2 separate regions of the Homo sapiens genome follow, and region 2 is linked to region 1. A link means that fine-mapping ties the variant in region 1 to the expression of a gene that starts in the linked region. Tissue or cell type: aorta. Region 1 holds a variant in brackets; the other region holds the start of a gene. All regions are shown on one strand. Distances are from middle to middle.

Region 1 (10,413 bases):
GTCTCCTGGTGGCTTACTTAAAGTGAGGCTTAGACAGCGGGTCACGGGACCTATGCCTGTCTTGGGGGCCTGAGGGGAGGCTTGTCTTAAGGTGGGGACGGTAGTGGTGTTTGGCACTTCTGGGAGCAAGTCACAGCGCAGGAGAGGGGAGGGCAACTGAGCACCATGTCCGTGCTGTCGAGGGCTGGACACGGCGCAGGTGGGTGCAGGTGTTGGAGCAGGGCTGCAGGTGGGTGGGCACAGGTGTGGGACGTGAGACTCACGCCCTGGCAGCAGCCGTGCCTTCTCTGTGGAGCCTGTGGTCTCAGCAGCCCTCCCTGCAGGGCCCCTAGCCCCTAGCCGGGCCCCCCGACCCTCTGCGTTTAGGGTGGGAGCGGGGCGCAGGCTTGGTGGCGGGAGGGAGAGGCCTCTCGGGGCCCTGAGCTTTCTGTAGCAGCCTGGCCGGGGGCCCTGCCCTCCGTGTGCTGCTGCCTGCTGTGCCCCGGCCTTGCAGCAGCCGCAGGCTTCTGCCCCGTCCCCGTTGTTCCTGGAGGACCCCTGGCCGGGCTGGTTTCTCTGGCCTGTGCTGACTCTGCCGCCTCCCCAAGAGGAGCTGCTGATCGAGCGAGTGTCGCATGCCGGCATGATCAACCCGGAGGACCGCTGGAAGAGCCTGCACTTCAGCGGCCACGTGGCGCACCTGGAGCTGCAGATCCGCGTGCGCTGCGACGAGAACTACTACAGCGCCACTTGCAACAAGTTCTGCCGGCCCCGCAACGACTTTTTCGGCCACTACACCTGCGACCAGTACGGCAACAAGGCCTGCATGGACGGCTGGATGGGCAAGGAGTGCAAGGAAGGTGAGGGGGCCGCTGGGCTGCGTGGAGGGCAGGGAGGGCCTCGGGCAGGGCCCCGGGCACAGGCCTTGCGGCCAGGCTGGCTGCAGCTGTGCCTCTCGCTCCTCTCTGTTCGCAGCTGTGTGTAAACAAGGGTGTAATTTGCTCCACGGGGGATGCACCGTGCCTGGGGAGTGCAGGTGAGTGTGCCGCCGGCCCGTCTTTGCCCTCCCAACCTTTGCCCTCACGTCCTCACTGGCACACACAGCCTTGCTGTCAGGAGTCGCCCGGAGCTGGCTGGAGGTTGGGCACACAGCTGTGAGAGCCGGGCCCTGAGCTCGGGAGGCTCCTTAGTGCAGTAGGTGCGTGTCTGAGCATGGGATGTGTCTGATGGCGGCAGCCATGTGAGGACAGTGAGGAGAGACTGGGGAGGCTGGCTGGACAGTCACGTCACCGAGGGGCAGAGACCCGGAGGCTGCAAGCCACCCAGAGATGGGGCATGGGCAGAGGACACGGTAACCCTGCCCATGGGGAGGGGGTGGGCGGCGAGCGGCCGGCAAGTGACACCAGCAGGCGAGGGGCGGCAGAGCAGACCAGTGGTGGGAGCTGAGGCCTGCAGGACCAGGGACAGAGGAAGGGGCTGCTGGCAGGTTTGTAGCTGGGCAAGGTGGGTGGAAGGGCTGTGGTAGCTGTTGAGTGGGGAAGCACCAGACGGGAGGCTGTGAGGGGGAGGCCGCTGTGGGGCATGTGGGGGTGGTGGGGGAGGGGCCAGCGGGATGGGGAGGGGGTCAGTGGAAGGGGGAGAGGCGCACGGGTCCTGCAGACATCCTGGGGTGGAGCCCAGGGGTTTGTGGATGGATTTGATCAAGCAGGAAGGGTGTGGAGTCAGGGAGAACCCCAAGCTGCTGAGTAGCAGAGCCATGGTGGCAGGAGGAATGCCACAGAGGAGCAGGCGGGGCCGGGGTTAGCTGGATGTGGAGAGGCGATGCCTGCCCTGTCCCTGGAGACACCCAGAAAGCTCGTGGGAGAGGCCTGGCCTGCGCCACGCGGGGCCTGTGGGGGGTGGCATTCAGGCGGTGACGGGAAAGTGGGGAAGGCAGAGAGGAGGGAGGCCAAGGAGCAAGTCCCGGCTGCCACAGGTCAGGGCGGATGGATGAGGAGTCAGCAAGGGCCTCCACAAGGGAGTGTCCGGGGTCTTACAGCCAAGTCCAGATGGTGGAGGCCTCTGGACCCAGACCAGAGTGTGGGGGATCCAGCCAGGGGGGCTGGCAGCTTTGCCCTAGAGTGGAGCAGAGAAGTCAGCAGGGCAACCAGAGGGGCTGGGGCCCAGGGTCTGGGGTGGGCACGGGCTTCGAGCCGTGGCGCTCACTGTGCGTGAGCAAGCTGGGGAGCCCGAGAGAGGGGCGCGAGCGGGTGGAGAGACAGCAGGTGGAGGTGAGCACCGCCCTCCAGCCAGCCTTGGATTGCAGGGGTCCCAGGACCTCCCTCTGTGGAGTGGGTTTGCCTCCATGGGACGAGGACACTGGGGCACAGAGAGCCTACTGATTTCCCCAGGGTCACACAGCGTGGCGTTTTGGAGAGGAGTCGGGGAGTTTGGGAACCAGCTGAGTTGGGAGCCAAGGTGGGGAGGTGGGTGACCCTTCCACAGGCCCCACGGTTGAGTGGCCTGGAGGGTACAGTGAGGAGCTTTCCCGGCCAGTCCCAGAGCGGGGAGGCAAGCAGGGCTGGGGCCGCCCACCCGGTCACTTGCACACACAGGGATTCCCGGCAGGTTGAGCGAGTCCCAAGTCAGCTCAGAAAGTGCAACAAGGTGGACCTGGTCTGGGCAGATGTAGATGTAGATCTACGGGAGTCGGCCCCACTCACCCTCGCCTGGCCCAGTGTGCATCACACAACCTGGATGGCAGTGCCACCCTCCCTGGATGGCTGCTGGCTGGCAGCTTGAATGTCACACCAAGGCTGGAGGAAGGCAGCAGAGAAGTTGGCCATCCCTGCCCTTTACCCGCAGGAAGATGAGCCGGAGTCTGGGGGGCCTGGTGGGTGGGGGCAGTAGGTGAGCTCCGCCTGCCCCTCTTGCTGGCCCTGTCGGGGAGGCCCAGCTGTTGCTGACAGCCTCGGCTCAGGTTCCAGTGCAGGACGCCCCCCCACCGGATGCTGCGGAGATGGCCATGCCTTCCTGCCGCCGCCTCTCCAGGGCCCTGGGGCTGCTGGCTGGGGAAACCAGGAGGTGGGGGCCTGGTGTGGGCTGCCCTGCCCAGGGTCGAGAGCACGCCCTTGGGACCCACGAGGTCTGGGCTCTGAGCCCGGCTGTGGCCGCTCTCTGGCCGATGACCCAAGGTGTGTCACAGCCCCGCCCTGAGCCTGGGTCTCTGTGTCTGTGGAGGAGGGATTCTAGGCGGGATGTGAGGCCACCCACGCGGACCACTGTGCATGCTGGGCTGGATACTGGAGACACGTTCTTCCCGGCCTCAGTTTCCCCATTTGTGGCAGCTGAACTGGGCTGATAGGCCTTCGGTGCTGGCTGTGTGGCTTGAGGGCGGCTCAGGAAGGGCCGTGGTTCTTTCCTTTTACAAAAATAAAGTGTGGCGGGTGCCGGTGTGGAAGTGACGTGGCCTGGATGACATTCCCGTCCTGCAGGACCGGAGAGTTCTAGGAAGGGCCCCCCGGGAGTCCCGGCAGGGCCTGGATGGCAGCCTGCTGAGCCTTGGGGTCGTTGCAGGCTCTCTCCCCTGACGGAGGCACCCTCAAGTCAGGCCATGTTCTACCCTGGCCACCTGCCCTCTCCTGGGGGACTCCCAAGACAGGACGTTGGCCGATAGCCTGGGGCAGGGCGAGTCCTGGTGGTTGTGTCCTGGGGGGTGCAGCTGGGGGTGCAGCTGGAGCTCCTGCAGAATCAGGAACTACCCTGGGCAGGGCTGGCCCAGGCCAGCCTGTGGGCCTCAGTAGCCCCATCTGTGAGATGGGTACCTTGTGGGACTTTACTGGGAGCGAGCGAAATGACTGCCTTTGAGGTGGGGGCGAGGGCACGTGCTGTGCCCAGGGCCACATGGCCGAGGCAGAGCCAGGAGTGCTCCCCTGCTGCCCGCTGGCCTACCCAGCCCCTGGTGCCTCCCGGCCCTGGCAGCACCTTGTGAGTCCGAGCCGGCATTCTCATCCCCGGGGTCCCGGCAGGGCCTTCCTTTCCTGGTGCCTGCTCTCGGGGCCCAGCTCACGGGTGAATCCCAAAATAGCTCAGGGAGGAGTGACGGGACAGCTGGGGCTGACCGTCGGCAGCCAGCGGCCGGGAATGCCCGTGACAGTGGGGCTGGCCGGCAGGGCTGCAACCCCTGCCTGGCTGGGGCTGCTCCAGTTCAAAGGCCTGAGGCCGCCCGCCGGCCCTGGGTGTGGCGTGGGTGACTGTGCCTGGCTCCCCTGCCACCCTTTCAGGCACCACAGCTCACTGGGTCTTGCGCCCCTCCTCCTTCCCCCAGGTGCAGCTACGGCTGGCAAGGGAGGTTCTGCGATGAGTGTGTCCCCTACCCCGGCTGCGTGCATGGCAGTTGTGTGGAGCCCTGGCAGTGCAACTGTGAGACCAACTGGGGCGGCCTGCTCTGTGACAAAGGTAGTGGTAGGGGGCGGCAGGCCTAATGCTCTGCCATCGAAGTGTGGGTTGTGGGGGAGCGGGGGGCCGGCTTTTCCCCTGAGCATCCCACCCCTGCCCCCAGACCTGAACTACTGTGGCAGCCACCACCCCTGCACCAACGGAGGCACGTGCATCAACGCCGAGCCTGACCAGTACCGCTGCACCTGCCCTGACGGCTACTCGGGCAGGAACTGTGAGAAGGGTACGTGGGGGGCTGGCCACCCAAATTCTGGCCAGGCAGGGACTGGTTCCCTGGGGAGCCGGTCAGGCCCCATCCCTCTGGCGTCCTGTGTGGTGGGCCCCTGACCCCCAGCTTGGGAACCTGTGGGCTTGGGGAGGAGTGCTTGTGGAAAGCTGGGGGCCTGGCTGCCAGCTCTGCCCCCTCCCCGCGGTTCTACAGCTGAGCACGCCTGCACCTCCAACCCGTGTGCCAACGGGGGCTCTTGCCATGAGGTGCCGTCCGGCTTCGAATGCCACTGCCCATCGGGCTGGAGCGGGCCCACCTGTGCCCTTGGTGAGTGTCTGCACGTGAGTAGGGGACTCCTGCCTAGTATCAGTGGGGGTCTGGGAGTGGGGCAACTCGCTGGGGATGGGGTGCAGTGGTCAAGTCCACACGTGTGGCTGCGGCTGGCTTGGCGAGGACAAATGGCAGGAAGACCCAGGCTTGCAGCGCCACCTGCCCATGGGGACCTTATTCCCACGGCTCACACTGCCAGGGCCCCACCTTTCTCCACCCTCTGCAGACATCGATGAGTGTGCTTCGAACCCGTGTGCGGCCGGTGGCACCTGTGTGGACCAGGTGGACGGCTTTGAGTGCATCTGCCCCGAGCAGTGGGTGGGGGCCACCTGCCAGCTGGGTAAGGGCTCCGAGCGAGTGCATGGGAACGTGGGCCGCGCATGCGGGCTGCGGGGGCTGCTGGGGCTGCGGGGGCTGCTGGGGCTGCTGGGGCTGCTGGGCTGCGGGTGCCAGGTGCCCGTGCTGCAGGGGGCAGGCAGGGCCCGAGCCCCA[C/T]GGCTCCCACCTTGTCTCTTTCACAGACGCCAATGAGTGTGAAGGGAAGCCATGCCTTAACGCTTTTTCTTGCAAAAACCTGATTGGCGGCTATTACTGTGATTGCATCCCGGGCTGGAAGGGCATCAACTGCCATATCAGTCAGTATGGGGGGTGGGCGCCGGCGGGTGGGCCGAGGCACATGGGACCCCGCCTCTGACCCTGCTCCTCTGCCCCCAGACGTCAACGACTGTCGCGGGCAGTGTCAGCATGGGGGCACCTGCAAGGTGAGGCGGGGCCAGGAGGGTGTGTGGCGTGGGTGCTGCGGGGCCGTCAGGGTGCCTGCGGGACGCTCACCTGGCTGGCCCGCCCAGGACCTGGTGAACGGGTACCAGTGTGTGTGCCCACGGGGCTTCGGAGGCCGGCATTGCGAGCTGGAACGAGACGAGTGTGCCAGCAGCCCCTGCCACAGCGGCGGCCTCTGCGAGGACCTGGCCGACGGCTTCCACTGCCACTGCCCCCAGGGCTTCTCCGGGCCTCTCTGTGAGGTGAGGTCTGCCTGGTCACCCTGCCCCACCTGCTGCTCTGGGAGCTGTAGGGCAGGCCTCGTCCCCTGACCATGGGGCCTGAGTGACCCAGGGGTGCTGCAGGGGAAGTTGTCCCCAAGGCGTCCCAGGCTCAGCTCTCCACTGGGTGCCAGGTGGGCAGGCGGGGCTGTCACAGGTCACCAGGCTTGGCCCCCTGTGGCCATTGCTTGTTGTGATGGGTTTCCTGGTGGCCTGGGCTAGGAGCCCCCGGGCTGCTGGCTGCCCAGGCCTATCTGTCCATCTGTGCACTCCCTCGGGACTGGAGGGCAGGGGGCTCTGGTGGGCAGAGCACATGGGGTAGGGTGGGTGCCTGATGGTGGAGAGGTATACACCTGTCATAGGTGAGTCCTGGGTCGGAGTGGGCATCTCTCTCAGGGCTGATGCTCTCGCCTCCCTCTGACCATCTGTTGGTACTGGACCCCCTCCCCCAACCTCCCCTTCCCCCCTGCCTCCAAAGTAACCTGCCTTCCCCCTTCCCCACCACCCCTACCACCCCCTTCCCCACCTCCCCCTTCCCCACCTCCCCCAACCCTGCCTCCCCCCACCCACCTCACTATCACCCCTCCCCTACCTCCCCCAACCCTGCCTCCCCCCACCCACCTCCCTACCACCCCCTTCCCCACCTCCCCCAACCCTGCCTCCCCCCACCCACCTCCCTACCACCCCCTTCCCCACCTCCCCCAACCCTGCCTCCCCATTACCTGCCTCCCTACCACCCCCTCCCCTTACTTCCCCTTTTTCCCTGCCTCCCCCCACCCACCTCCCTACCACCCTCGGCCGCCCACGATCCTGCCCTGGCCTTGGTGCAGAGGATGGGCCTCCTGTCCAGAGGGCTTCTTGGGGCCCAGGGCAGGGGTCTGACCTCAGGACCTGCAAGCATGGCAGTGGCTGGCCCTGGAAAAGACCCACAGTCTTGGCTCTGAGGGTGGCCAGGCAGTGTGTGAGGGGCTCAGGAGCTGTCCTTCCTGCCAGCAGCAGGGGCCAAGGCCACACTCCTCCCGAGGGACAGTGAGGAAGCTGGGCTGCAGTGGAGGTGGGGGTGGGGGCCCACAGGTATCTGCGTTCAGCTAAGGCCTGGGCAGTCTCAGGTGGGCAGGGGTCTTGGGCTCTGGCTGGCACTGTTAGGCCCAGGGCGGAGGGGCCTGGGGGTCCCCAGGGATCTACCTTCGTATGGACAGAGGCCTGGCCTGTGTTCCCGGCCTGGGCCTGGGCCTAGGCTCTCACAGGCACCCCCCACCCTGCAGGTGGATGTCGACCTTTGTGAGCCAAGCCCCTGCCGGAACGGCGCTCGCTGCTATAACCTGGAGGGTGACTATTACTGCGCCTGCCCTGATGACTTTGGTGGCAAGAACTGCTCCGTGCCCCGCGAGCCGTGCCCTGGCGGGGCCTGCAGAGGTGCTGGGTGCGGCATGGGGTGGTGGGGGAGGTGGTGGGGCAGGGGCGGGCCTGACTCCTGACTGTACTGCCTGCCATAGTGATCGATGGCTGCGGGTCAGACGCGGGGCCTGGGATGCCTGGCACAGCAGCCTCCGGCGTGTGTGGCCCCCATGGACGCTGCGTCAGCCAGCCAGGGGGCAACTTTTCCTGCATCTGTGACAGTGGCTTTACTGGCACCTACTGCCATGAGAGTGAGTGGCCACGAACGGCGGGCTGGTGGTGGGGCTGGGCTGGCCTGAGGCCCTGGCTCACCCCGCTCGCCTCTGCAGACATTGACGACTGCCTGGGCCAGCCCTGCCGCAATGGGGGCACATGCATCGATGAGGTGGACGCCTTCCGCTGCTTCTGCCCCAGCGGCTGGGAGGGCGAGCTCTGCGACACCAGTGAGTGTTCCAGCACCCGCCCACACGGCCTGTGCCTCCACCCCTGTGGGCCCCTTATCACCCTGAGATGGACCGCTGTCTGGGTGCGGCAGGCCCCGTACCCAGAAAGGCCTGGCCAGGGGGTGCTGCCACCATGGGGTGGAGTCCCAGGCTGCCCCCATGCCCGAGGCCAGCTCCCCCGGCCCGACGCTCCTCCCCCGCCCCTCTCTGTCCTCACCTGGCCCAGCTCCAGTGCTTCCTCCCCCGGGAAGCCCTCCCTGAGCGCCGGTGACCCCCCGCCCGCTGACCGGCGTCCTCGCCCCCAGATCCCAACGACTGCCTTCCCGATCCCTGCCACAGCCGCGGCCGCTGCTACGACCTGGTCAATGACTTCTACTGTGCGTGCGACGACGGCTGGAAGGGCAAGACCTGCCACTCACGTGAGTGTCCGCAGGCCCTGGCCGCCTGGGGCTGCCCCCAGGACCCTGGCCCTGGCGGTCTGGGGCCTGCCTGCTGAGCGGCCCATGTGCCAACAGGCGAGTTCCAGTGCGATGCCTACACCTGCAGCAACGGTGGCACCTGCTACGACAGCGGCGACACCTTCCGCTGCGCCTGCCCCCCCGGCTGGAAGGGCAGCACCTGCGCCGTCGGTGAGGAGCCCCCGCTGCCTCTGCGACCGCCGGGCATATGCCCTCCCAGGCACCGCTCCCTCGGGCGCGATGGGCCGAGGGGTCTTTTTTGAGGGCCACACCTGCCACCTGCCCCCTGCCCCCTGCCCCCGGGTCTGTCTGCCCTGTCTGGGTTGGGGGCGCGGTATGGAGACCCAGGGCCAGCCCAGGGCCAGGTGAGACGCTCCCTCCTCCTCCTCTCCTTACAGCCAAGAACAGCAGCTGCCTGCCCAACCCCTGTGTGAATGGTGGCACCTGCGTGGGCAGCGGGGCCTCCTTCTCCTGCATCTGCCGGGACGGCTGGGAGGGTCGTACTTGCACTCACAGTGAGTGTGGGAGGGGTGTGGGCGGGGGCCGCTTTCCTCCACCCAGATGACATCCCTGCCCCCGACTCGCCCCCCAGTCCCTTCTGCCAGCCCCTCCCCCTGCTGCCCCTGCCCCCAGCAAAAGGCACCCTCCTTGATGACCCTCCCCAGCCCCACAGCCTGATCACGCCAAGCCAGCCTGGACAGTGCCTGGCACGCTTGGGGGGTGGGTACTGATCCCCTGCGTTCTCTTCTCCCAAACCAGATACCAACGACTGCAACCCTCTGCCTTGGTGAGTGGCACCCTGGGGGCCACAGCAGGGGTGGGTGGGACTTGGCATACCACGGGGGGCCACCTGATGCCCACCCTCTGCTCTGCAGCTACAATGGTGGCATCTGTGTTGACGGCGTCAACTGGTTCCGCTGCGAGTGTGCACCTGGCTTCGCGGGGCCTGACTGCCGCATCAGTGAGTGGCCAGACAGCCCCAGCCCTGGGAGCCCCTCAGCCCAGCCGCGGTGTCAGGAGTCTGGGGACATCAACGTCCACGTCCCTTGAAGGGCAGTGTGGCCACAACTACTTCCTGCCTCTCTTCTGAGCCTCAGTTTCCCCACATGTCTGTGCCCTGTGGGGTTCCTGCTGTATACCCTGCCAAGTGATTAAGTGGGGAGCCCCAGCCTGGGGGACCAGTCCGGGGCCCAGGGAGCTGTGGGGGTTGGAGCGTGCAGCCTGACGTGGGCTCCTCTGTGGCCGCAGGGCTGTTGTCCCTGGGTGTTGGCCCAGCTGTCTGTCCAGCACCCCTTGGCTGGTCCGACGCAGCAGCTGGGGCTAATCCAGGATGGGACAGGCCCACTGCAGAAGCAGACGGAGGAGGGTGCTGTTGGGCCAGGGTCAGGCTGGGCTCAGGAAGGCCTCAGGCAGGCAGCAGCTTGGGCTCGGGGGCAGGGGCTGCTCCTCATTGTCCTGGGGCTTGCGCCTGTGTGCCACTGGCTCCCCGCTGCCCTAGGCCATGCCGGTCCTGCGGTGGGCGTTGGCCTCACTGCACTGAGCAGCGGTGGCTCTCCCTGCAGACATCGACGAGTGCCAGTCCTCGCCCTGTGCCTACGGGGCCACGTGTGTGGATGAGATCAACGGGTATCGCTGTAGCTGCCCACCCGGCCGAGCCGGCCCCCGGTGCCAGGAAGGTAGGCCCCGTGTGATTGCCCTGGGTTGGGGCGGGTTGGGGGGCATGGGTGACACCCAGCCCCGAGGGCCAGATGCCCACTGCTGACCCTCGAGCCCCTTCTCCCCACAGTGATCGGGTTCGGGAGATCCTGCTGGTCCCGGGGCACTCCGTTCCCACACGGAAGCTCCTGGGTGGAAGACTGCAACAGCTGCCGCTGCCTGGATGGCCGCCGTGACTGCAGCAAGGTGAGGGCAGCCCGTGAGCCGCCCTGCCCTACCCGAGGCTGGTGCACGCTGACCCTGGCCACTCTGTGAGATCAGGAGGCGGGTGCTGGGGTCCGGATGGACTGAGAGCCGTCTGCCCTCAGGGACACCCAGGGAGGCGAGAGCTCAGCCAGGCCCCATGCTTCGATGTGCAGTTGGGAAAACAGGCCTGGTCTGGGTCCTGCCTTGCTCCGCCTGCCCTT
Region 2 (10,413 bases), 30 kb before region 1:
CACAGAGATGCACAGATACACACACACACACACACACACACACACACGGCCCAGCCCCCTGCTGCTCCTCCGGGTGTGGTCTCTGCTGTATCCCCCCAGCACCCCACTGCCAGTCCTGGAGCCCACCACTCTGCTCACTTATGAGCACTCTGCACTCAACTCCTGCCCACACCCAGTGGACTTCTGTGCCCCACACCCCCGACCTCCTGACCCCCCATCCTGATCCTCCTCCAGCTTCCCCTCAACTCAGCCTCTCTCGGGACACTCCCTCTGCACTTACCTCGGAATCCCCGCCCCTGGCTTTCCTGCACCCCTCCCGCCCCTGACTCCCCCACGTCCTCCCCACCCCCCGCACCCCCACCTGGGCTCTGTCATGCCTGTAGCTCCCTGCTCAGTGTCCTCAACTCTCCAATCCACCTGCTGCCTGTGACCTTACTGGGAAGGAGCTGAGCCATGGAGGAGCCCAGGGGCCCCCCTTGTACCTGCCCTGCCTCCAGCATGGCCCAGGAGCATCCCCAGCCCGGTGCCACCAGGAAGCCTTGCTCCCCAGGCCCCCTCGGAGCCCGCACCCAAGCCCCCTGCCAACAGGGGCCACTTCGCCTCCCTCCCCTCCCATCTCATCCTTGGCAGGGGCCCTTGCCTCACTCCCCTTACAGAGGAAGGGGGACAGAAGCCCACAGCGGTCTCCTAGGTGTCCTGCAAGAAACCCGCCCACTTGCTGCGGGGCGAGGCCCCAGGCTGCAGATCCTGGCGCCACAGGGTCCTGCCCTGGTGGTGATGCCCTCCCGACGCATCCTCCCCAGAGTCCACACCTGGATCCCCAGAACCTGCGAGTATGGACCTTCTGTGGCAAAGGGGACTTAGCAGGTTTGACTAACAGAAGGACCCGAGGTGGGAGATGGCCCCGGATGGCCCCGGATGACCCGGGGGGGCCCTAAATTGTGGTCACAAGGACCTCAGAAGAGGGAGCAGGAGGGTGGAGACGCGAGGACGGAGGCAGAGTCGGGGGAGGACGGAGGGGCGCTCTGCTGGCCTTGAAGGTGAGGAGGGGGCGGGGGCCGCCTCCGGAAGCTGGAGAAGACAAGGAATGGATCTTCCCCTGGAGCCCCCAGAAGGAGCCGCCCTGTGACCCTTGACCTTCACCCGGTGGGATGCGTTTTGGACACCCGTCCCCCAGGGCTGGAAGGCCATGGCCGTGCTGTTCCCAGCTGCTGGGTTGGCAGTGGTTTGTCTTGGCAGCCCTGGGGAGCTGACACTGGTGCTCTCACCCCACATGCCCTCTGGCCCCGCTACAGGGCATCTGCAGGGGCCTCTGCCACTATGCTCAGCAGGGTCTTTGAAGCCTCCACACTGCCAAAGCCAGAGGTGGCTTTTCAGAGCTCTCCACTGTGGCTCTCAGGCCACCTGGCCACACGGAGTCCTCTCATTCCCCCTCCTGGAGCCCCTCCCCAAATCAAGCTCCTCCTCCTCCTCCTGCACCTGCTTCCATGGGGAACGAAGCCATCCTCTGCACAGCCACCACTCTGGACAACAGCCAAAGGCCCTCGGACCAGTCTCCTCCTCCCCCGGCCCCAGGCAGCCACGGTGACCTCCCAGAGGGGCATCTGACCACCTGCCCTGCCCAACCCCTCCGAGACTTCCAGTGGCCCCAGGGGATGTGCCAAGCACAGGCCAAGGGAGCTGCCCCCAGGGCCACAACGCCTCTTCTGGCCTCGGTCTCCTCCTGCCAGGACAGCTTCCTTTCTCCTGCCTTGGATCTTCGGGTTTCTGGGGAGTGTCGTGTCCTCGGGGAGGCTGTCCTCTGCCTCTTGGCATGCCTGTCCTAACTTCTTGTGACATCAGGCCTGCCCCGAATCACCTGTTCGAGCCACCCCAGTGCACAGCAGGAACTGGTAAAGTGCCTGGGCTGCTTCTGCCTTTTCTCCCTTTCCATCTCGGAGGGACAGCAGGCCTCACTTGCCCTGTCCTCAGCTCCACGTGTGGGCAGTGGCCTTGTGGTCATAGACAGCATGGAATGTTCCTGAATAGCCTCAGTGACACTGGTTTTTCCTTTTTTTAAAAAAAAAAAAATTGAACCGAGCCAGGCATGGTAGTGTGAACCTGTAGTCCCAGCTACTCAGCAGGCCGAGGTGGGGGAATTGCTTGGGGCCAGGAGTTCAAGTCCAGCCTGAGCCACATCATGAGACCCTATCTCTAAATAAAATTTGTTTAAAATGGAACTGAAATTCACAGAACATTAAACACTTCACAGTGCACACTGAGCGGCATTCAGTACATTCATACTGCTGTGCGGCCACCAGCACTGCCTGCTTCCAGAATGCCTTCTTCACCCCAAACGGAAAGGAAAGCCGGCACCCATTAGTCAGCATTCTTCATTCTCCCGCCCTCAGCCCCACCAGTCCGCAGCTGCTTTTCCGTCTCATGGATTTACCTGTTCTGGACATTTTCTTTTTTCTTTCTTGCTTTTTGTCTCCCTCCCTCCCTTTCTCTGCCTTGCCTTGCCTTGCTTTGCCTTTGCCTTTGCCTTTGCCTTTCTTGATGGAGTCTTACTCTGTCACCCAGGCTGGAATGCAGTGTCAAGATCTCAGCTCACCGCAACCTCTCCCTCCCGTGTGCAAGCGATTCTCGTGCCTCAGCCTCCCGAGAAGCTGGGATTACAAGCACACACCACCACGGCTGGCTTTTAGTAGAGACAGGGTTTCACCATGTTGTCCAGGCTGGTCTCGAACTCTTGACATCACGTGATCTGCCTGCCTCGGCCTCCCAAAGTGCTGGGATTACAGGCATGAGCCACCGCGCCCGGCCTGGACATTTCATATACACAAAATCGCAGAGGACACGGCCTTTGTGTCTGGCTTCTTTTGCTGAGCATAGTGTCGCTGTCGCTTGTGTGGGAATTTCTCTCCTCATGGCTGAGTTGTGCTACCTTACACGTCTACACTGCATTTTCTGGATCCATTCACCTGGCAACGGATGCTTGGGTTGTTCTTCCCTTTGGCTGCTGTGAGGAAGCATCTGTCTGAGTGTCTGTTTTCAACTCCTTTGGGTGGATACCCAGGAAGACAGTTGCTGGACCACAGGGTAATTCTATGCTTAACTTTTTGAGGAGCCGCCAGGCTGCGTCCCACAGTGGGCTCCTTGCTGATATTTTCAGGCACTCAGCTCTGCAGTCTGCACTGCCAGACACCTGGACCCGAGTGAGTCTGAGGAGCACGGTGCTTTGAGGAGCTGCTGGCTCTCCCAGGGGCTCCTTGATGGGGCTCCTGTTGCCTCTGCCTGTCCCGGGGCTGCTGCTGCTGGAAGCTGAGACTCATCCTCATTTTCCATGCAACCACGGGCAGGAAGGAGCCTGCACGCGACATGCCAGGGTGCGCGCTTACCCTGGGCCCCTCGTGCACCGGAGGAAGAGGCCTGCCTGGCTGTGGGGTAGGGTGGGGCCAGCTTCTGGGCTGGGCGCTCTGGCTTCCGGGACACCAGGCGGAATGGCTAAAGCAGGGAGACACAGGCCCCTGTAGAGCTACTGGGGCGGTGACAGCTGGACTTGGATGCTGGCTTCATGACCGTGCTCCCCAGCGTTCCCACCTGGTGATGTCCCTCCCCTGGAATCTGCCGGAGGCCCAGGACTTTCTGACCCACAGGATGCCCCAGGAATGACACCATATGACATCTGAGGCCAGGTCACACAAAGCCTGGCAGCTTGGCCTGGCCTGGTGAACGTGCTCTGGAGGGAGCCAGCTGCCACGGGAGAATCCAACTACCCCGAGACCACCATGCTGCAGGGAAGCCCACGCCAGCCACATGGGAGGCCAGCCGGCCCTAGCTGTTCCAGCCACCCAACTGAGGGCGGGGGCGAAGAGGCCATCCTGGACGGTCCACCCCGTTTGGCCTTCAGACGACTCCAGCCCCAGCTGCCACCTGATTACAACTGCAGAGAGACCCCAAGACAGGGCTGCCTGGCTGAGCTGGGCAACCCACAGGCCAGGCGATAACGGGGTGCTTTAAGGCACTAAGCTTTGGAGGAGTGTTTTGTTACACGGCAATAGTTAACAGGGAACTGGGAGTCGATTTCAAGCTCACATGGCCAGTCCACCCTGAGCATGTCCCCTGGGCCATAGTTCAGAAAGCAGGTGCAGGTCAGGGTTCAGGGCCAGTGTGGGCCTCAATATTGTTTCCTGCCCCCGTGGAGGCCGTGGTGGCATTTGGAGGGGGTCCTTGGAATCCATGCCCAAGGAAGCACTGAAGCTGCCTGGGACCCTCCCACACCCAGGAAGGGCCGTCATCAAGGTAGGACTTGCAGGGGGAGGGAAGGGCAGCTGGCTTTTGAGTGGAGGAGGGACAGCTCCAGAGACAGCGTGGCAGCTCCCAGCCACCCTCGCCACCAGGAACCTCGAGGGGAGGCCCCCTCGGCCCAAGCTCTGGCCCCTCCAGCTCCCTACTCTCCTCTCCCCTAGCTTCCTTCCAGGGCCCTCTCTCTTTGGTCTCCTGTGATTTTCTTCCTGGGCCCACAGTCCCTCCCTCCCTGGGGGGCTGCCCCGCCCCCGGCCCCGCCCGCGGACCCCTGGAGTAACTTAATCTCGGGGTTGTGGTCCATCCCCAGAGTGGGGAGGCATCCGCTCGGCCCATCGCACCCCAAAGCTGCAGGCCCTTAGCTCCAACCACCGCCAGGCCCTCCCTCCCCCAGCCAAGAGGTCCCGAGTCCCACCCAAGCACTGTACCCCGGCCCGGCTGGCCCCGCCCGGCGGCCGGGGTCGACCCGGCCAGTCCTTCCCCCGGGCGACGCCCACGTGCCTGCGCGGCTTCCCTGGCACCGCGGCGACCAGCGCCCCGAGGCGCGCGGCACCCGACAGGTGGCACCTGCGAGCCCCGCCCACCTCGGCCGCCCCGCCCACCTCGGCCGCCCCGCCCCGCGCGCCCACGGAGCATGCTCAGAGCCGCGGTCACGCGCCCGCCCGAAGGCTCCTGTCGGGACAGGGCGCCGCCCCGTGTCGGCCCCCGCAGAGCTCGCGGCCCCCGCCTGTCCGGGCGCCGCCATGGAGCGCATCGAGGGGGCGTCCGTGGGCCGCTGCGCCGCCTCACCCTACCTGCGGCCGCTCACGCTGCATTACCGCCAGGTGAGCCCGCGCCCCCGCGTCCCCCGCGCCCCCGCCGGCGGCCCGGCCCACGACCCGCGCCCCGCCCACCATCTTCCGCGCTGCCGGCCCCGCCCCGGAGCCCCGCCCCCGCCTCCCGCCGATCTCCCGGGCGGCCGCTTGTCCGCCCGCCGGATCGCGGGTTCCCAGACCCAGTGAGCCCCCAGGCCGGGGAGGGGCCGCGGGAGGGACATCTGAGGGGGCACCACTCATCCTTTCAAGGAAGCATTGCTGGGCCCCATCCTTCCCGCCCGCCCAATCCGACCCTCTTGGCAGTGGAACTCCTTGGTTGCCCTGGGGATCAGGGAAGGCTTCCTGGAAGTGGTGGCTTTCATGCTACCACTTGAAGGAGGAGATAGCTGGGCCGAGGAGGAGGGAGCAAGGAGCGCAGAGGCCGGGCGCAGGGAGGTAGGAGAAGGAGCTGAGTGAGAACTTGAGAGAGCCTCTCAAAGCAGGCTTCCTCCTTGGGGTTTTTTCCAGGGAGGGCACCTCCTTGGAGTCTCCATCTGCCTAAGCTCAGCCTTCCCCACCTCCTAGGGTGTCACCTTCTCCCATGCCAGGCCACGGCACAAGAGGCTGTATTGCCTCACTTAGCACCAGGCACATGGTAGGTTCACAAGGAATATTTTGTTTTGTTTTGTTTTTGAGACAGGGTCTTGCTGTCGCCCAGGCTGGAGTGCAGTGGCATGGTCACAGCTCACTGCAGCCTCAACCTCCTGGGCTCAAGCGATCCTCCTGCCTCAGCCCCCGCCCCAGTAGCTGGGACCACAGGTGCACACCACCACACCTGGCTAATGTTTAAATTTTTTTGTAGAGACGACGTCTCACTGTTGCCCAGGCTGGTCTTGAACTTCTGGCCTCAACCGATCCTCCTGCCTTGGCTTCCCAAAGCATGGGGATTACAGGCATGAGGCATATGTGTTGGGTGAAGGAGCTGCTGCCATCCTTTTCCCACATCCAGTGGATCACTGAGTCCCGGGCCGTCTTCCTCCAAGCCCAGCCCTGTCCAGTTAGGGCCCCACCTTTTGCTTGCATGCCCACCTGCCCCCAGCAGATCTCCCCTCTGCCAGAGCTCCTTCATGCCATTAAGGCAAAGACCACCTTCCTGGTCACAGTCAGTCCAGCCCCCCAGCCTATCAGGTCAGGTGGTCCAGGTCGCAGTGCCTCTCTGCCTGCCTGCCTCCCTCCCTCAGGGGGCATCCTGTCCCCCCCATCACATCCAGGACTCTGCCCCTCGCCATCCTGGAGAAGCCCTCTTGGCCCCCAGCCTGAGAGAGGCCCTGTGCCCCTCACTTTCCCTGTTGCGGGAGTCCTGTTGGCGCTGGAGGACAGGGGATCCCTCTCCCCAAGGCGAAGCTAAGCTGGTGGTGCTGGCAGGGGGCAGCTGGGATCAGTCGGGGTACAGCAGGTGGAGACATGGGGTCACTGCCCTTTTCCCTGACGTTGGCCATATGGGATGCCTGCTTGTGGCTGCACAGTCCCCACAGGGCTGGGTCTCAGGCAGCAGGTGCAGGCCCAGGCAGGTGCCCTCTGTGGCCCTGGTGGCAGCACTCTCTCCCTCACTCCCCGTGAAGCCTCAGGGCAGCCCTTGCAGCCTCAGCGGGCAGCCCGCCGGCACAGCTCTGCTGAAGGGTTCTGGTGACCAGAGCTGAGCTGGTTCGGGCTGTGGCTGTGGTGGACACGGATGTAGGCTCGGGCTGGGCGGCATCTCCTCAGGGCCAAGGGACATTGGGCTGGACGCTGGCTGCCACCCAGGGGCAGCTGCAGCCCTCAGCTTTTTGCTGCGTCCAGCCAGGGGAGGCCTGTGATGTCAGGCAGACCAAAGGCAGGGGACCCCCGTGGCTCCGAGGCGATGGGGTCTTCTTTGCACCCAGCCCTGCCCCTCCCTCCCAGGCCTCAGCAGCCTCCCTAAACCTCCCTGCACCTTGACCTGGCTGGACCTAAGGGTCTGACACGCTTTTGACCTTGAGCTGAGAGGGTCCTTGAGACCTGCATGGGGTGATGTTACTCGGGGGGAAGCAGTGGTGGGGAAGGGGCATGGGCACAGCAGGCACATGGCAGGCTGTGGGCAGGGGGCTTCCCTGGAGCCTGCCCTGGCTGGGTGGTGGTTCGGGGGTGGCTGGGTGTCAGGCAGGCCTGGGGTCGCCTCCCGGGAGTGGTACCCCACGGCCTCTCGGGCTGCCTGACCTGCGCGGGACGCCGGCCCTCCCTTCCCTTGGAAACCGGTACTCTCCTCCCAGGACGCCTTTGCCTCCCGGCCAAGCTCAGAGGGCCTCTGCGCCTCTGCCTGCCCAGAGTCCCTTCCCTCACTTCCGTCACCTCCTCCAGAAAGTCCTCAGGAAGGCTTCTTCTCTCTTCTGCAGTCCTGGCTGCACTTCTGTGTCTCTGCTGCTCAGACCTCTTGTCCATTTCACAGCCCTGGGCAGAGCCCCCGGTGGGGGATGAGCAGCTGGCCTGGGCCTCAGAGTGGCAGATGGGCTGAGCGTGCCGGAGATGGGACCCCGCGGGACCCCAGGCTCAGCCCCCAGGATGGGAGTGCATCTCAGAATGCATCAGTTCCAGCCTCCCCCAGCAGGCCCAGCCCACACACCTGCCCACCCTGCCTCCTCCGTTCACTGAGTGCCACCCAGGGTGCAGGGGCCTGCCAGGGTGGTGTGCCCAGTGTGGGGGAGTGGGAAGGTGGAGGGTGGCCACAGGAGAACGGGACCACAGGGTATGTGGGAGAGTCGAGGCCAGAAACTGGGGGTAGGGGTGTGTGGGGGGGCTGCCGAGCCTGGTCACCATCATGACAGTCACCGAGTCCTGCAGTGCGATCTCCTACCTGGCTGGGGCGCCACCCTTCCTCATCTGCTCCTGGTGCCAGCCCCTCCTGCCACCCTTCCCCATCCACTCCTGGTGCCGGCCCCTCCTGCCCTCCCGTCTCCACCTGTTCAGTGGCCCAAGGAAGCATCAGCAGGAAAACCTGACCTCTCCTCTGCCTGCAGGGCCCTCCTGCCCTGCTGTGAGGGAGTCACGCCTGCCCTCCCCGAGCCTCCATGAGCCTTCCTATACTTGGTGACGGTGTACGTCTCTCTGCAGCCCCTTGTGCTCGGTCTGTGCTGGGCAGTGTTTCATGAGGTGCCTGGACACCTTCCCTGCCCTTTGCCCTGGTCTTCTGCCTCACTCGTAGGGTATTAGGCTGTCCTTGACCTCCCTGCCCCTCCCAGGCTGCTTGCTCCTCTGCCCACGGGAGCTGCAGTTCCTGGCTCCCGTGGGCCCAGGCCACGAGCCGATCTCCCTGGTTAGGAGTGGGTGCAATGGGTCTGTGGCCTCCTCGGTTCCCCGAGCACCTCCGCCCATCCTGGGACATTCTAACCGCTGACCTGCCCCTTCTAGAATGGTGCCCAGAAGTCCTGGGACTTCATGAAGACGCATGACAGGTGAGAGCCTGGCCCAGCCTGGCCACTGGGGAAGCCCCAGACTGATGTCTACGGGGACACTGGGCCCAGGGCGAAGGTGCCCTCTCCTCCCTGACGTTGCTGTTCCCTGCGTGGGCTCCAAAAGTCCCTTCTCTCTGCCCGGCCTCTGGGTTTCCTATCCCTGAGGGGTCAGCCTGAGGCCTGGGGGCTGAGTCAGGTCTTTGCTCAGGCCACCGGGACCATGATGGTGGGCAGGCCCTCTCAGGGCAGGGAGAGGCTGTCCTGGAGCCTTTGCCCCTAGCATCCAGGGTCTGGGCTGGATGGCGACGTGGCTCGAGGAGTGTGGCTGGTGGGCAGCTGCTCAGTGAGGGCCAAACGTCCTGTCAGTCACCCGGCCTCAGCTGCGAGCACCCTGACCTACTCAGCTGCCCGTGTGTCCTTCCCTGCCCCCCGCCTCCCATCCTGCCAGCTGGAATACAGCAGGTCTGGGTCCTGGCCAGACTGTGACCCTGGAAAGCTCTGGTCCCGCCTGGGCCTCAGCCATCCTATCTGAGCAAGGGGCCTGACCTCCCTGGGCTGCTGGCAAGGAGGTGGGATGGCCACGCTGGGAACAGAAAGATGGGAGGTGGGGCCCCACGAGGGCCAGTGGAGTGCTTCTGTGCTGAGCCCCTCCCCCCGTACACAGCGTGACCGTTCTCTTATTCAACTCTTCTCGGAGGAGCCTGGTGTTGGTGAAGCAGTTCCGGCCAGGTGAGGCCAGCTGGGGTGGGAAGGGGATCTGCAGGGTCACCTTCAGGTCCCTGTGGTCCTGAGGGTCTGAATACAGATGTGGGAGGGGGCTCCAGGGGAAGCTGAGGCCCTGGGAGGGGGCTTGGCTGTGTGGGTGACCTGGAGGTGGCCACCACGTGGCTGTGAGCACAGTCTGGCTTCTTCCCACGCAGCTGTGTATGCGGGTGAGGTGGAGCGCCGCTTCCCAGGGTCCCTAGCAGCTGTAGACCAGGACGGGCCTCGGGAGCTACAGCCAGCCCTGCCCGGCTCAGCGGGGGTGACAGTTGAGCTGTGTGCCGGCCTCGTGGACCAGCCTGGGCTCTCGCTGGAGGAAGTGGCTTGCAAGGAGGCTTGGGAGGAGTGTGGCTACCACTTGGCCCCCTCTGATCTGCGCCGGGTCGCCACATACTGGTGAGTGGGACCAGGCCCTCAGGCCTGTGGTGTGACTCAGGAGATGGGAGAGAGTGAGGGCCCCGTCCCTGGGAGTGTGCAAGCAGGATGGATTCCTCCTTGTTTTCCAACATGGGATTAGGGGAGGGTTGGACCGAATGCGCCTCAGCTCCTAAGCCAGGCCAGAATCTGGGCTCTTGGGGCTCTCTCTGCAGCGTCTCGGCCCCATGCCCCCAGCCTGCGGCCCCCAGCTGTGTGAGGCAGGCCGGGTGACAGCTGCTGCTGACAGGTGCCTCTACTTCCTGTAGGATTAAGACCGGGCGCTGGGGGTGGGGGTGACTCACAGCTCTGTTCTCAGAGGGTGGCTTAGGAATGAGGGAGAAGCTGTGTCCTGGGCTGGAGAAGGGGTGGCTCCAGCTCTCCTGGGGAACAGGCACTAGAGCCTGCGCTTTGGGACCTGACCCACCAAACTCGAGGCACCAACTCTTGCCCCGCGAGGGCTGCCAGCTGGGGTGGGGTTGCCTTCCCAGGACTAGATGTTGGTATGAAGCCCATCCACTTCCCCAGGGACGCTACGATGGGCTCCTGACCCCAGCTGAGGTCTTGGGGAAGGAGGAGGGTGTCACAGACCCCCACCCCCACCAGCTGAGCACCAGCCTCCACAGCCTCCTCCAGAGGCCAGGGCCCGCTCCACTGGGAGAAGCACCGGAAGTCTCTGCACCTGTCAG

Evidence for each region. PIP is the estimated chance that this variant, and not a neighbour inherited with it, causes the effect.
Region 2: NUDT14 starts here. The variant in region 1 is fine-mapped to the expression of NUDT14 in aorta (GTEx, PIP above 0.99).

The regions. Positions count from the first base shown.
Region 1 is chr14:105,146,164-105,156,576 of GRCh38, reverse strand. JAG2 (jagged canonical Notch ligand 2) reads left to right here. Exons shown (of 26, transcript NM_002226.5): 4 at 588-839; 5 at 955-1,015; 6 at 4,286-4,416; 7 at 4,520-4,639; 8 at 4,838-4,951; 9 at 5,181-5,294; 10 at 5,473-5,586; 11 at 5,666-5,712; 12 at 5,800-5,973; 13 at 7,257-7,407; 14 at 7,488-7,640; 15 at 7,719-7,832; 16 at 8,138-8,251; 17 at 8,348-8,461; 5 more. MIR6765 (microRNA 6765) reads left to right here and starts at 5,713; the gene lies at 5,713-5,799. RefSeq lists an enhancer at 988-1,586. The variant C/T (reference allele first, on the strand shown) is at 5,447.
Region 2 is chr14:105,175,827-105,186,239 of GRCh38, reverse strand. NUDT14 (nudix hydrolase 14) reads left to right here and starts at 4,928. Exons shown (of 5, transcript NM_177533.5): 1 at 4,928-5,111; 2 at 8,505-8,548; 3 at 9,213-9,277; 4 at 9,469-9,706. The coding sequence starts at 5,031. RefSeq lists a silencer at 4,759-5,228.